Linked DNA regions of Homo sapiens. The protein of the gene in region 1 interacts with the protein of each later gene in a pairwise test. Each region holds a gene or a part of one and is shown on either strand. Other genes may lie near its edges.

Region 1 (3,643 bases):
AATTACTAGATATAATTCTAAGTTAATGAACCAGAATGACTGCTACTCAGCAGGAAGAAATCATTTCATGTTGAATCAGGAGGAGGAAAGTCTCCTGGAGGGATATCTCCAGAAAAAAAAAAAAGAAAAGAAAGAAACTGACTTGTTGCCAGATGTAGTTGGCCATTTTGAAAAGAATTTCACAGTTCTGTTGCATAACTTAGTGATAAGTACAATAAAAACTAAGCCAATTTCAAAAAGGATTCAAATGTTAACTTTAGAAAAAAATGAATTTATACCAAAAGGACACTGTGATAATAATATTAACACTACTATACCTCCATGTGCTTGGCACTATTCTAAATACCACGCTTGTATTGTCTCTAAATCCTCATAACAACCCTATAAGGTAGGCAATTTCATTAGGACTATTTTACTGATGAGGAAAGTAAGGTACAGAGATGTTAAATGACTTGAACAAATACCACAACCCAGATTTGAACCTGGAAGTCTGACTCTAAAATCCAGACTCTAGTGTAGTCAGTTTGCTACATGGCTTACTTGTGAGCAGTATTCTATGATTGTCAACATATGCACACTTAATACTGATCTAACCTGTAATTATGACATAATTATATATTGAAAAAACAGGGGAGGGGAAATATGTTAGGAGTGAGTGGGGTAATAATAACATTTCTAAACCTCATCTTCCCTCTTAGACAGTCAATACATAATGGTTAAAACTGGAAAAATAAAACAATCTATAACAATATAAAGTTATTATTTAAAACACATAAGCAGGCCAGGCGCAGTAGTTCATGCCTGTAATGCCAGCACTTTGGGAGGCCAAGGCGGGCGGATCACGAGGTCAGGAGTTCAAGACCAGCCTGGCCAATATGGTGAAACATTGTCCCTACTAAAAATACAAAAATTAACCGGGTGTGGTGGCAAGTGCCTGTAGTCCCAGCTACTTGGGAGGCTGAGGCAGGAGAATCGCTTGAACCCAGGAGGTGGAGGTTGCAGTGGGCGGAGATCGCACCAGAGATCGCACCACTGCACTCCAGCCTGGGCAACACAGTGAGACTCCGTCTCAAAAAAACAAACAACAACAACAACAAAAAATAAGTAAATATCAGAAGAAACAGCTAAAATAATTTGGAGAGGAGAACTGGATTTGGAGATGAGAAAGGGACTTTTTCAATATTCAACAAGAAAAGGCTTTTTCAATATTACCCTTGAAGTAATATTTGAGTTTTTAAACTATGCATTTGTATTTCTGTGATTTAAAAAATCAATTTAAAGGGAAATTATAAATGTTGGAGAAAGGTAGGGAGGGATGGTATCTAGTACTGAAATGGGCACTTTGATAGTACTGATAGGAACCAGGACTCCCGTGACTACCAGGAAAGGTGTTGCTGGTCTTATAACTACCCACTGGGGTGTGGGATACAGCCTCTCAAGTCGGGTCATACCTTCTGCACCAAACACCTCTCCGCAGTGAGAGCAGAAGAAGTGCTCTGGGTGCCAGGTCTGGTTCATTGCTGTCAGCACTTTCTGGAAAGGGAACACACAGATATTATAATGATGCAGAAGTTGTAAAGCATGACTCTGGTTCTAAGTGAGTGACTGAAAGCTGGAGAGGAGCGGGGATTTACTTACATCCAGGATGGGAGCAGCGCAGTAAGCACAGCGTGGAGAAAAAAGTTGGTGGTAGTCGTTGGGGCAGTAGGCCAAGCCACTCCGCTCAAAGAAGGGACTGGAGCCAATCTCTTCTTTGCAATGAGTACAGACAAAATGCTCAGGATGCCATGATTGCCCTAGAGCATGGATCACCTGTGGAGTGAAATAAAGCCTGACACAGGAGGCCAGTTGAGTGCTCTACAGCCTACAGGTTGCACAACTCTAGGGAGCACTCTTCACATTGTACCCCTTGTAGACAACACGCCCTGGAATTATACAACACTGAGGCCTAGACCTAGGTTCCACCTAAGGCCATCTGTGGTCTGTGCTTTATGGATTGATAATAAAAGGATGCCCACTTCCGGGACTGATCACTGTGATGAAAGCCTGTAAATGTTCACAACCACTGCACTGCCACAGGGGGTGGCAGAAACAACATATAGCACATTGATGACAGAGAAGTTGTAACTGTAGCCTTAGTGTGGAAGGGACCCCTGGAAGAGGAAAAGGCCAAATGACAGTTTTTATTCCTCTAGTTTGAACACTTTATTCCACGCCCCATGCAGTCAGGTCTCAAAGCTTTTTATCATAGCTTCGGTGAAGGACGATGCAGAACAGGAGTTTGCAGCTGTGACTTGGAGCTGAGTTCAGCTGAAAATTGTAATCAATCAATTTAGACTGGGAATGTGTGAACAAAGGGAGCAGTGAGAAAGGTCATCTCAGTAAAGGCAGTACAGAAAAATGGTCAAGAACTCAAACTCAGGAGACAGTCTCCTGGTTTCAGATCTTACCTCTACCTCTTATTATGCCTTGGATATGTCCATTAATGTCTCTGAGTCCTCAGTTTCCTCATCTTTACAAAGGGAGCAATCATTCTTCTTGAAGGGCTGATGTGACCATTAAATGAGGAAATACTTGTAAAGCACTTAGCTCAGTGGCCAGAGCACTGTAAGTGATTAGTAATTATTAATGCTAACTAAAATATCTTAAAATATAAGGGGAAAGAGCAAACCTTGATGAGACAGAGAGAGACAAAGAAGGCTGTAGGACCAAAATTTCAGCCCATCTCACCTTCCCAGCAATCGGTTTCTGGCAGGATGCACAATGGCCCTTGGGCACTGTGGCAATGCCAAGGTCCTGCAATTCCTGCTCCAGACCCCCAAGCATTGAGTCCAGGGAGGCCTTGTGATCCTGCTTGTCTGGTAAGTGCTTCTTGCCAGCATCTGCTCTCACTGCAACCTGGCCCAAGGGAAGAACCAAGAACAGAATCAGCCTCATTTTTATTCTCATTGGCATCTTCTAATGACTCTATAAATTCACCTCTACTGACTGATCTCTTGGCCTTTCCCCAACCTTCCTGCAAGACATTGGAAAAATCTAAAATTTCAACACCAATAAAAATCTTTTCATCTCCCTTTCATCCTAAACTCCTCAGGCCAAATGAAATCTGACTAATTTTATATTTGTAAATCTTTTCTTAATGTAGGAAATTTAGTACATGAAGATGATACCCTTTGAAGATCTTAGGATGACCCCAGTTCAAAAATTAGTCACATCTCCCTTTTACTCATTTATTTGGCAATAATTGTTGAATACCTGGTTTGTGCCAATCACTGCTCTAAGCACTTGGATTAAAGCAAAGATAAGACAGACCAAGTGTCTGGCCTCATGGAATTGCATTCTGTGGGCGATAGACAATAAATAATTAAATAAATAAATATATGTTGTAATGTCAGACAGAGATAAGTTATAGAAAGAGATAGAAGGGACACAGCAAGATGGTAAGAAGAATTGATTTAGATGGAGGTAATAATCAAAGAAGGCCCCTCTAAGGAAGTAATATTTGAGTAGATACTTGGGACTTAGAAATATTGACATTTATGGGAAAAGCATTCTAGGGGAAGGGAAGGCCCCGAGGAATAAAACAACTTGGCACATTAGAAGAAAAGTCAAAGAGGTCAGTGGGGCTAGAGCAGAGGGAGTG
Region 2 (3,643 bases), on another chromosome or scaffold:
GCTGGGATTACAGGTGCCAGCCACCACACCTGGCTAATTTTTGTATTTTTAATAGAGATGGGGTTTCACCATGTTGGCCAGGCTGGTCTTGAACTCCAGACCTCAGGGATCCGCCCACCTCAGCCTCCCAAAGTGCTGGAATTATAGGCGTGAGCCACCGCGCCCAGCCTGCTGCCACTTTCTATTAATAAAATCCCAGCATTCTAATATTCTAACATTCCAACACTGAGTTCCAACATGCTGAGATACCAATATTCTGCTTTCTCCAACTCCAACATTTGTGGATGTGAATATTTCAAAACAGAATTCTACCACTGTGAGCCCAATATTCAAGGACTCCAATCTGCCAACACTGGTATCCACAATTGGCCAGTGGTGCAGGAATTCCACATGGGCCATCTTCCCATTTTGAATCCCCAAATTCTAGGATTCCAATGTTTCAGCTTTCCTTGAGTCCGACATTTTCCATTTCAGTAATTAACACCAAATTCTAGCATTCTAGAATCCCAGCATTCTAGAACCTCAACCTGCCAACAATTTAGGGATTCAAGATGGTGACCTTCCAACTTTGAATTCCAACAATCACAGGGTTCAACTTTCTAACATTCTGTGATTCCAACACTCCAGCAAGAAAGCAAGGCTGGGCGTGGTGGCTCACACCTGTAATCCCAGCACTTCGGGAGGCTGAGGCAGGCGGATCACGAGGTCAGGAGATCAAGACCATCCTGGCTAACATGGTGAAACCCAGTCTCTACTAAAGATACAAAAAATTAGGCCGGGCGCGTTGGCTCACGCCTGTAATCCCAGCACTTTGGGAGGCTGAGGTGGGTGTATCACGAGGTCAGGAGATGGAGACCATCCTGGCTAACACAGTGAAACCCCATCTCTACTAAAAATACAAAAAAATTAGCTGGGCGTGGTGGCACGTGCCTGTAGTCCTAGCTACTCGGGAGGCTGAGACAGGAGAATCGTGTGAACCCGGGAGGTGGAGCTTGCAGTGAATCAAGATAGCGCCACTGCACTCCAGCCCAGGTGACAGAGCGAGACTCTGTCTCAAAAAAAAAAAAAAAAAAAAAAAAAGGAACCTGATCCCAACATTACAAGACTCCCAGTTCTTTTTTTGTTTTTTGTGGCTGGGATTATAGGCGCCCACCACGCCTGGCTAATTTTTGGATTTTTAGTAGAGACGGGTTTCACCATGTTGGCCAGACAGGTCTCAAACTCCTCACTTCAGGTGATCCACCTGCCTCAGCCTCCCAAAGTGTTGGGATTACAGGCGTGAGCCACCGCACCTGGCACAAGACTCCTGGTTCTTACACCCAGACCTCATCCCCTGAGCCCTCCAAGCTAAAGGAGACAGATGCTCAGCCCAAGCACAGCAGCAGCCAGGTGTCCAACCTGGAGCACCTGGTCAGCAGATGGCAGTCATGCCCCCAGCCTGGAAGGCCTCCATCCAGGCTACAAGGCTCACCTGAAGCAATAGTTGGTGTCCAGGGCTCGGCGGTGCCGGGAGCTTTGCAGATGCTGGGCCCTCTCCAGCGGGGTGGCCATGAGAAGCAGGAAAGGCCGGTTCATGCCATGAATGGTGGCCAGGTCACCTCGGCGGCCGGTAGTGAACCCTGCTTTGGTGTGGGAGTCAGGGGATAGGGGACATACACACACACTCTCAGAGGGATAGATAAGTGGGGCGTGGGGCAGATGGGAACACACACACGCACACACGTCACAACTGGGCATGGCCGGGGAAGCAGGCCTCACCGTTGATGTCCACTTGCAGTGTGTTATCCCTGCTGTCACAGGAGCAGTGGGCGCTAAGGCGAAAGCCCTCAATTTCCCCTGTAGGAGTGGCGAGAGGGAAGCCAGTCTGAGAGTGCAGCTCACCCAGCCCCTGGAGGAAGAGGAAGGAAGGAGCAAACCCCAGGGGCTTCCTTCCTGCCTCCCCCACCCACCCCACTCTGCCCTCTCACTGCAGCTCTCTCTTTTTTTTTTTTTTTTTTTTTTTGAGACAAGGTCTCGCAGCCTCAATCTCCAAGGCCCAAGCAATCCTCCCATCTCAGCCTCCCGAGTAGCTGGGACCACAGGCGCGTGCTACCACGCATGGCTAATTTTTTTTTTTTTTTTGAGATGGAGTCTGGCTCTGTTGCCCAGGCTGGAGTTCAGTGGCGTGATATCAGCTCACTGCAACCTCCACCTCCCAGGTTCAAACGATTCTCCTGCCTCAGCCTCCCAAGTAGCTGGGATAACAGGCATGCGCCACCACACCCGGCTAATTTTTTGTATTTTTAGTAGAGATGGGGTTTCACCATGCTGGCCAGGCTGGTCTCAAACTCCTGACCTCAGGTGATCCGCCTGCCTTGGCATCCCAAAGTGCTGGGATTACAGGCTTGAGCCACTGCATCCGGCCTACACGGCTACTTTTTAAATTCTCTGTAGAGACAGAGGTCTCACTATGTTGCCCAGGCTGGGCTCAAGCAATCCTCCTGCCCTGGCCTCCCGAAGTGCTGGGATTACAGGCATGAGCCACTGCACCCAGCCAGCATCAATCTCTTGAATGAATGAGTGAATGATGTTTTCTAGGCTCCTACAATGTGCCGAAGCCTGTGCTGTGTGCTTGGGACTCAGCATTGACCAAGACAGATGAGCTCCTTCTAGGCCTTTGTCGAACAGCCCAGGACACTCCTCCCAGTGCCCACCTGCTCCCTAATCCCTATTTTTTCTTTTTCTTTTCTTTTTTTTTTTTGAGACGGAGTTTCACTGTTGTTGCCCAGGCTGGAGTGCAATGGCACGATCTTGGCTCACTGAAACCTCCACCTCCTGGGTTCAAGCAATTCTCCTGCCTCAGCCTCCCGAGTAGCTGGGATTACAGGCATGCATCACCACGCCGAGCTAATTATGTATTTTTAGTAGAGACGGGGTTTCTCCATGTTGGTCAGGCTGGTCTCGAACTCCCGATCTCAGGTGATCCACCCACCTCGGCCTCTCAAAGTGCTGGGATTACAGGCGTGAGCCACCATGCCAGGCCCCCTAATCCCTTTTTTTTCATGTGGCCAAACTACTATTTATCCTGTGAGTCTCCACACAATCACCCTCACCCAGCAAGCCCTCCTAGACTCCCCAGATGGGTCCAGGTGCCTTCTCTGGGCTCCCAACAGCACTTAGGGCGTTCCCCCATCCTGCATGCCTCCCTGTCCCAGCCTTGTCCTCCCTGCTGGTGCCTCCCCATCCCATTCTTGATCATTCTAGGTCATTCCTGCCTGGTGGGGCCTTGACAAGATCTCTTAGGTGTCCAGAAGTGACTGTGGGCCCCATGAGGGCAGAACTGAGGGCTGTCTTGGTTATCACTATGTCCCCCACACCACCCAGCACATGGCCAGGCACACAGCAGGAACCTGTGGGCAATTATTGAATAAAAGCATAAATGAGAGGGAGGTGAGGGAGAGAGATAGGGGCACCATGGGCCCTGCCAGAAACCAGACAGAGACAATCATCTCCTGGACAGATCAAATGAGTTAGTTAGGCTCTCCCTGGCCTCCAGGCCTTTGCACAGGCTGTTCCCTTTGCCTGGAATCTTTTTTTTTTTTTTTTTTTTGAGATGGGATCTCACTCTTTCATGTAGGCTGGATTGCAGTAGTGTGATTATGAC
Region 3 (3,643 bases), on another chromosome or scaffold:
CCCATCTCTACTAAAAATACAAAAATTAGCCAGGCGTGGTGGTGTGCGCCTGTAATCCCAGCTACTGGGGAGGCTGAGGCAGGATAATCACTTGAACCCAGTAGATGGAGGTTGCAGTGAGCCAATATTGCGCCACTGCACTCCAACCTGGACGACAGCGAGACTCCGTCTCAGAAACAAAAAAAAGCATACAGTATAACAAGGTGTAAAGTAGAAGGAAAACAAGAACATATGTCTCATAAAATGAGAAGTAGATGAATAGGCCGAAAACAGTGGTCAACTATATTGAATGCTCCTACAAGAGCCTGTAAGACTAATTTAGTAAATAGAAACCACTGGCAACCTTGACTAGAGTAGTTTTAGTGGTAAGAATGGAGGCCAATCTGTAGTAGGCTGAGAAGCAAAGGGAAGTGGAGAGAGCACAAAAAGACAACTTTTGAAAACTGGCTTGGAAGAGAATCAGAGAAATGAGGCTGTAGCTAGAGAATAATGTGGAATGGCGAGAGGGCTTATAAACAAGGAAGCCACACTTAGTGCTGTCCAATAGTGTTGTCTGCAATGATAGGGATGTTCTATATCTGCACTGTCCAATAGAGCAGCCATTAGCACCATATATGGCTACTGAACAACTGAAATATGACTAGCATCACTGAGGACCTAAATTTTTTAAATTTTTCTTTTAACAGCCACACATTTCATTGCAGAAAGCACTATTGATTAGTAGCTACCATACTGGACAGTACAGCCCTAAAGCACATCTGCATATTAATAAAGATAATCCAGAAAGGGAAAAATTCATGATGTAGGCAAGAACGAGGTAAGTCCTTAAGAAGTCAACAGGCTGGCAGGGTGCGATGGCTCACTCCTGTAATCCCAGCACTTTGGGAGGCCAAGGCAGATGAATCACTTGAGGTCAGTAGTTCAAGACCAGCCTGGTCAACACAGAGACGAATCCGTCTCTACTAAAAATACAAAAATTGCCGGGCGCGGTGGTTCACACCTGTAATCCCAGCACTTTGGGAGGCCGAGGCGGGCGGATCACAAGGTCAGGAGATCGAGACCATCCTGGCTAACACGGTGAAACCCTGTCTCTACTAAAAATACAAAAAATTAGCCGGGCGTGGTGGCAGGCGCCTGTAGTCCCAGCTACTCGGAAAGCTGAGGCAGAAGAATGGCGTGAACCTGGGAGGCAGAGCTTGCAGTGAGCTGAGATCGCACCACTGCACTCCGCCTGGGCAACAGAGCGAGACTCCGTCTCAAAAAAAAAAAAAAAAAAAAAAAATACAAAAATTAGCCGGGCGTGGTGGTGGGCACCTGCAGTCCCAACTACTCAAGAGGCTGAGGCAGAAGAATCACCTGAATCTGGGACGCAGAGGCTGCAGTGAGCCAAGATCGTGCCACTGCACTCCAACCTGGCCAACAGAGTGAGACTCCATCTCAAAAAACAGTAAATAAATAAATAAATAAATAAATAAATAAAGAGAAATCAACAGGCTGAGCAGAGTGGCTCATGCCTGTAATCCCAGCACTTTTTGAGGCCGAGTCAGGATGATTGCTTGAGCCCAGCCTGGGCAACACAGGGAGACCCCGCCTATAAAAAAAAAAAAAAAAATTAAGATTAAAAAAAAAGTCAAGAGAAGACATCCAGAGCACAAATGGCACAATCTACATGGGATACAACATGAACAAAGCAAGGCATGAAATTACAGTAACGGGTAGAGATGAAGACTCAGAATATGTATTAAGCCTGATTGGAATCTTAAGCATAAAACTCAATTACAGAGGGCTATAAAATCCAAGCAGGAGGGGGAGGGTAGGTAACTTACATCTACTAAGGACCTATTATGTGACAGGCATTTTCTTTTTTTTTTTTTTTTTTTGAGAGGGAGTCTCGCTCTGTCACCCAGCCTGGAGTACAGTGGCACGATCTCGGCTCACTGCAAGCTCCGCCTGCTGGGTTCAAGCAATTTTTCTGTCTCAGCCTCCCGAGTAGCTGGGATTACAGGCATACGCTACCATGGCCAGTTTTTTCGTATTTTTAGTAGAGATGGGGTTTCACCACGCTGGCCAGGCTGGTCTTGAACTCCTGACCTTGTGATCCGCCCGCCTCGGCCTCCCAAAGTCCTGGGATTACAGGCATTAGCCACCGCGCCCGGCTGTGACAGGCATTTTCTTTTTTCAAGACAGAGTATTGCTCTGTCGCCCAGGCTGGAGTGCAATGGTGTGATCTCGGCTCACTGCAACCTCCGCCTCCTGGGTTCAAGCGATTCTCCTGCCTGGGCCTTCAGAGTAGCTGGGAGTACAGGTATGCACCACCATACTCAGCTAATTTTTTGTATTTTAGTAAAGACGGGTTTTCATCATGTTGGCCAGGCTAGTCTAGAACTCCTGACTTTGTGATCCGCCTGCCTCGGCCTCCCAAAGTGCTGAGATTACAGGCATGAGCCATCGCGCCCAGCCATGACAGGCATTTTCTAAATGACAAATTATTTCTCTCATCTCAAACTACAGTCTTGTAAATGTCATTTTACAAACAAGAGCACTGATGCTCTTTACACACACAGTAAATGCCAAGATTTGGACATAGGCCTGTGACTATAGGGTTAGAATCTTCCCACTGCATAAGGTGGGAGGTTAAGGCCAGGCACGGTGGCTCACGCCTGTAATCCCTGCACTTTGGGAGGCCGAGACGGGTGGATCACTTGAGGTCAGGAGTTCAAGACCAGCCTGGCCAACATGGTTGAAACCCCATCTCTACTAAAAACATAAAATTAGCTGGGCGTGGTGGTGCATGCCTGTAATCCCAGCTACTTGGGAGGCTGCAGCAGGAGAATCACTTGAACCCAGGAGGCGGAGGCTGCAGTGAGCGAAGATCACACCATTGCACTCCAACCTGAACAATAAGAGCAAAACTCCGTCTCAAAACAACGACAACAACAAAACAAAAAAAGGTAGGAGGTTAAGAACCACTGTTTCGGTACCTGGAATTAACATAAACAGCAGATCAATCTGGAAGTAATCAACAAGTGCCAACAAGCCTAGAGGGACTAGGCCAGAGGCAAAAACTATCCTGCCAATGCTTTCCACAGGATAACTAAGGAAAACTTAATAGCTACTTTTTAAAAATTCAAGTGAAAATACCTGTTAAGATGGAAAGAAACTGACTTGCTTACAACTTAGATTATCTACTTTATTGAACACAGATGTATCAATTAGAAAATCAGCACTGTTTTATAATACATACTGAAATAATATCTGGGCATATTAGAAAAACTAAGTCAACATACTCTCTCTCCAATTTGTACATTAAGAAAGGACAATTATTAAACTGAGTCTAACCAGTTATTAAATTACAGCTTAGATTTTAGAGTGGGCAAAGATCATCTAGATCTGTGCTGTCCATGTAACCACCAGCTACATCCAACTATTTTTATTTTTTTTTGAGACGTAGTCTTGCTCTGTCACCCAGACTGGAGTGCAGTGGCGCTCACTGCAAGCTCCGCCTCCTGGGTTCATGCCATTCTCCTGCCTCAGCCTCCCAAGCAGCTGGGACTACAGGCGCCCGCCACCCGGCTAATTTTTTGTATTTTTAGTAGAGACAGGGTTTCACCATGTTAGCTAGGATGGTCTCGATCTCCTGACC
Region 4 (3,643 bases), on another chromosome or scaffold:
ACTGAAGCTCGTTGGTATCTGGCCGTATATTAAGAAGACAAGGTGAATTTCACTCACAAAAACTTAAGTGATGTGAAGTGAACAGTACTTGTTTCCCGGTTTTTGCTCATAGGTTTCCCTAGTTTGGAAGTGACTCTCTCCCAATTCCCACCCTTTACTATGTTGAGAAGAATTTCATAATCAGTTCAAATCATACCTCTTCTTAAAAGGTCCCTTAATAACTCATTTGAAGATGAAGAAAGAGCAGCAGTCTGAGACTTTTAAGAATACCCTAGCTCAGTTATTAACCAGTTGCAAGGCAGTTAACCCTTTTTGGCCATTATTTTCTCATTTCAAATTATATAATTACATAGTCTTTTTCTGCATTGTATTTATGTTATCTGAACATAAGCAGAACATTAAAACATGCTTCAATGCGTTTCAATCATCATAAAGGCACATTCTTGTCATTCCAGGTCAAATCCCTTGATGGCATATCCAACATCGGCAGTATTATCCGGAAGTGGAATGGTTTGTTATCAGCAATGGCAGATGCTGACCATTTTGACATTCACTTCCCACTAGACCTGGATGTGAAGATGAAAGCCATGATTTTTGGAGCTTGCTTCCTCATTGTAAGCCTTCTATTTTTGAGTTATCCTGAGAGAGTTGTTCTTTCTGATGGAGAAGCAGTATAGTGTAGTATAAAGAATAAGCCTTGAAACCAATCCAACTTATCTCTGTGCCACTTACTAGTTACATGGTTTAGAAAGTGTTTACACTTGAAAGCCTCAGTTTCCTCATCTGTAAAATGGAGATTAAAATACTTATAATTTTCAGGGTTATGAATGTTAGCTATCATGGTAAAATGACCAGGGGAGTACTTAGATAACATTAGGTATCCATTGGGTATAATTATCATCATTGCATGTTATTTGTCATTGTCACTACTTAAAAATGCCTAGCCTATGATTTCTTAGTGAAATAACTCTAAAGTGGATGTCCCATTCCTCCTTCCTTTCTGCCTGTCACTGTACTCTTTGGGGTTGTCCAATCCTGAGATTATGAAGTTTTTCCTCTTTTTAATGATGAGATTCAGTTAATTGGCACTTCAAATGGAAAACTAACAGTTCCAAATTTGTAACTGCTGCTCTTCACAGTAGGTGCTCTTCATAAATATTTCCCTAAATTTATGTATTTTAACTGGAATGGGGGAATCCCCTAATAAATTACAAAGGATAATACCGCATGCATTATACCTAATTATCTATATATCTACATATAATTCTTTTTCCAATTTCAGGACTTCATGTATTTTGAAAGATCTCCACCACAACGTTCAAGATAGAGAGACACAGCAAGCCATCAACTATGGTTAATTTTGAAAAATGGAAAAGTTGGATTGGGCTTACAGTCAGCACTCAGTTATTTGCAAGTGTATTTCTTTGCTTTGTAGAGTATTTTTATTGGGTGTTAACTTTGACAGCTGAGAGTGGGCTTGCAAGAACACAATCTAAAAGTGTGTTTCAATTGAGTATCTCTCTAGTAGAATAGGAGTTCATCCTGAAAAGCTGTGACTCATTAACCCAGTAAACATATACAAAGTAAGCTTAAAACACTATAAACATGAGATAAGGGAAAATGAATCCAGAGTTCTCATATTAATAGGTAGTGAAACAATAAGGCTTTTTAGAGCAGACTTTGTTGGCATAAAATAACCTGGCTTCTATCCCTAACCCTTTCCTACCTTTCCTCTCCGTCAACATGTCCTCATACTGAAGACAAACTTGTTTCAATGATAGTCTTCATTTTTAAAAACAAAAAGGCAGGCAGACAGAAATAATGATGTTTTCTTGCACTAAGAAGGTACTACTTGTACACATATATCAAAACCTCATTCTGCAAAGTTTTTGAAGGTTTCAATGGGAAATTTGATTTTATTACAAAATAAAACATTTTTTAATGTTAAAGTTTATATATTCCATGCTTGTTTTCTCATTCACTGGCATGGATGATCAGGAGCTGCCTATATATGAAGGCAGAATCAGACTATCAGGAAAGGAGCTGGCCAGGGCCACAGCCAGTCAAGATCTCTGAGCAACTTAGAGACATTGGTGTCATTATATGAAGCTTGCATTTAATACATTTATACATAATACATTTGTACATTTAATTCATAACGTCTCTTGGTCACAGATGCCTTATATATAAAATAAGTTGCCAGATCTCTAAGATTGCCTAGTACACCTTTGTATCTCATTTGATGTGATACCCAGAAGAGATCATTGTTTTTTGTTTTTGTTTTTGTTTTTTTCAAGAAGATCCTTCGTGATCACCATGCTGTTCTCATGGTAAGAACTGGAGTTATGTTTTTAAATTTGGAAATATGACATTTTATGTAGCACTTTATAAAAAGTGAAAGCGACAAATTCCACCGCTGCTTAATACTGCTTTGCTTCTTTTTATTGACATGATAGATAAATATGTATCTACACAGAGTAATAATAATAAAACACAGTAAACATTCTATTTCTCTATGGTCTACAGCATGCCAGTAAATAATATGTAGGACCAATAATAAATTATCAATTACACATTTTTGTGTTAACTAATTAAAAGCATAGTGTATAAGTGAGTACACTCTAATTAACTTGCTTCTGTTGCACTTTAGTTTTCTACCTGCATATGGACTGCATTTTTTTTTTTTAACACAGTCAGTATGTAGAATGGGATGTATTCTTCTGCTGCTGCTTATTAAATAAAGAAAGCCTGAGTGTTCTTAGATGGGGTTATTCTGAGATGAGGGTCTTAGCCTACAGTTCTTTTTGAAATGAAAGGTGCTTTGTTTTTTAATTATATTCATCTTTTCAGGGTAAATTTGTTTTTCTGAGTTTCTCGTAATGCTCATTTTTACATGCTGCTACTAGCTTTTTTTTTTAAAAAAAGTAAAAGTTGCTGCTTTCTAAAATATTAATTGCCTTATATTTGAAAGTGCCATTGCAATCGTAAGTAGACTATGTATTTCCTATAATGATGTCTGATATTTAAATAGGAAATCAGACAAACAATATTCAGAAAGTTTAAGCATATAAACTTTTTATTTTTAACTTGCCTAAATCCCTGTATTCCAAAACCTGCTGCATCATAATAAATATATCTATATATATTTAGCATAAGACGTGATATTTTTAATTTCTTTTTTAAAAAATTATATTTGTCTCTTAGAGTTAAAATTTTCTTTATATAATATTGTCATATGTCATAGTTTTAATACAATTCACATGATTTCTATGTTTCTTAATGATATTTTGTTGTGTAAAATTGATCGGATTGATTAAAAAACAAATTCTCTGGAATTTGTGCGTTCATGCTTTTTCGTATTCTTTATGGCTTTTAAATAAATATACAATGGTTAATAGTAAAACACTGTTTTATTTTTTGACTTTGAATCTTCAAATACTTTTTTCACAGGGATTTTGAAGTAATTTTTATTGATTATTAGGTTTATTCAAGGCCCTTGCTTTCTAATATAAATTTTAAATTATTTTTAATTTATATATTTAATATATATTTAATTTATATATTTTTAATTATATATATTTATATATAATATATATAATTTATATATAATATATATTATATATATTTTTATAATATATAAAAA

What was found. Proteins that work in one complex are often made in the same cells at the same time.
Region 2: the proteins of LPXN (region 1) and TGFB1 interact in binary tests that used the Homo sapiens proteins (3 or more experiments, as listed by UniProt).
Region 3: the proteins of LPXN (region 1) and MAPK6 interact in a two-hybrid assay, tested with the Homo sapiens proteins (one large-scale study listed by BioGRID and IntAct).
Region 4: the proteins of LPXN (region 1) and PLSCR4 interact in a two-hybrid assay, tested with the Homo sapiens proteins (one large-scale study listed by BioGRID and IntAct).

What each region holds. Positions count from the first base shown.
Region 1 is NC_000011.10:58,548,335-58,551,977, forward strand, and holds part of LPXN (leupaxin), read right to left. Parts: intron 2,899-3,643; coding exon 2,731-2,898; intron 2,547-2,730; coding exon of another isoform or gene 2,463-2,546; exon of another isoform or gene 1,819-2,462; intron 1,813-1,818; coding exon 1,639-1,812; intron 1,534-1,638; coding exon 1,452-1,533; intron 1-1,451. UniProt on the Homo sapiens protein: Transcriptional coactivator for androgen receptor (AR) and serum response factor (SRF). Contributes to the regulation of cell adhesion, spreading and cell migration and acts as a negative regulator in integrin-mediated cell adhesion events.
Region 2 is NC_000019.10:41,340,412-41,344,054, forward strand, and holds part of TGFB1 (transforming growth factor beta-1 proprotein preproprotein), read right to left. Parts: intron 1,837-3,643; coding exon 1,759-1,836; intron 1,623-1,758; coding exon of another isoform or gene 1,620-1,622; coding exon 1,472-1,619; intron 1-1,471. UniProt on the Homo sapiens protein: Transforming growth factor beta-1 proprotein: Precursor of the Latency-associated peptide (LAP) and Transforming growth factor beta-1 (TGF-beta-1) chains, which constitute the regulatory and active subunit of TGF-beta-1, respectively.
Region 3 is NC_000015.10:52,025,587-52,029,229, reverse strand, and holds part of MAPK6 (mitogen-activated protein kinase 6), read right to left. Parts: intron 1,592-3,643; exon of another isoform or gene 1,357-1,591; intron 1-1,356. UniProt on the Homo sapiens protein: Atypical MAPK protein. Phosphorylates microtubule-associated protein 2 (MAP2) and MAPKAPK5.
Region 4 is NC_000003.12:146,192,095-146,195,737, reverse strand, and holds the end of PLSCR4 (phospholipid scramblase 4), read left to right. Parts: intron 1-455; coding exon 456-614; intron 615-1,282; coding exon 1,283-1,327; 3' UTR 1,328-3,403; downstream 3,404-3,643. UniProt on the Homo sapiens protein: Catalyzes metal ion-induced ATP-independent rapid bidirectional and non-specific movement of phospholipids (lipid scrambling or lipid flip-flop) between the inner and outer leaflet of the plasma membrane and participates in the redistribution of phospholipids between membrane leaflets.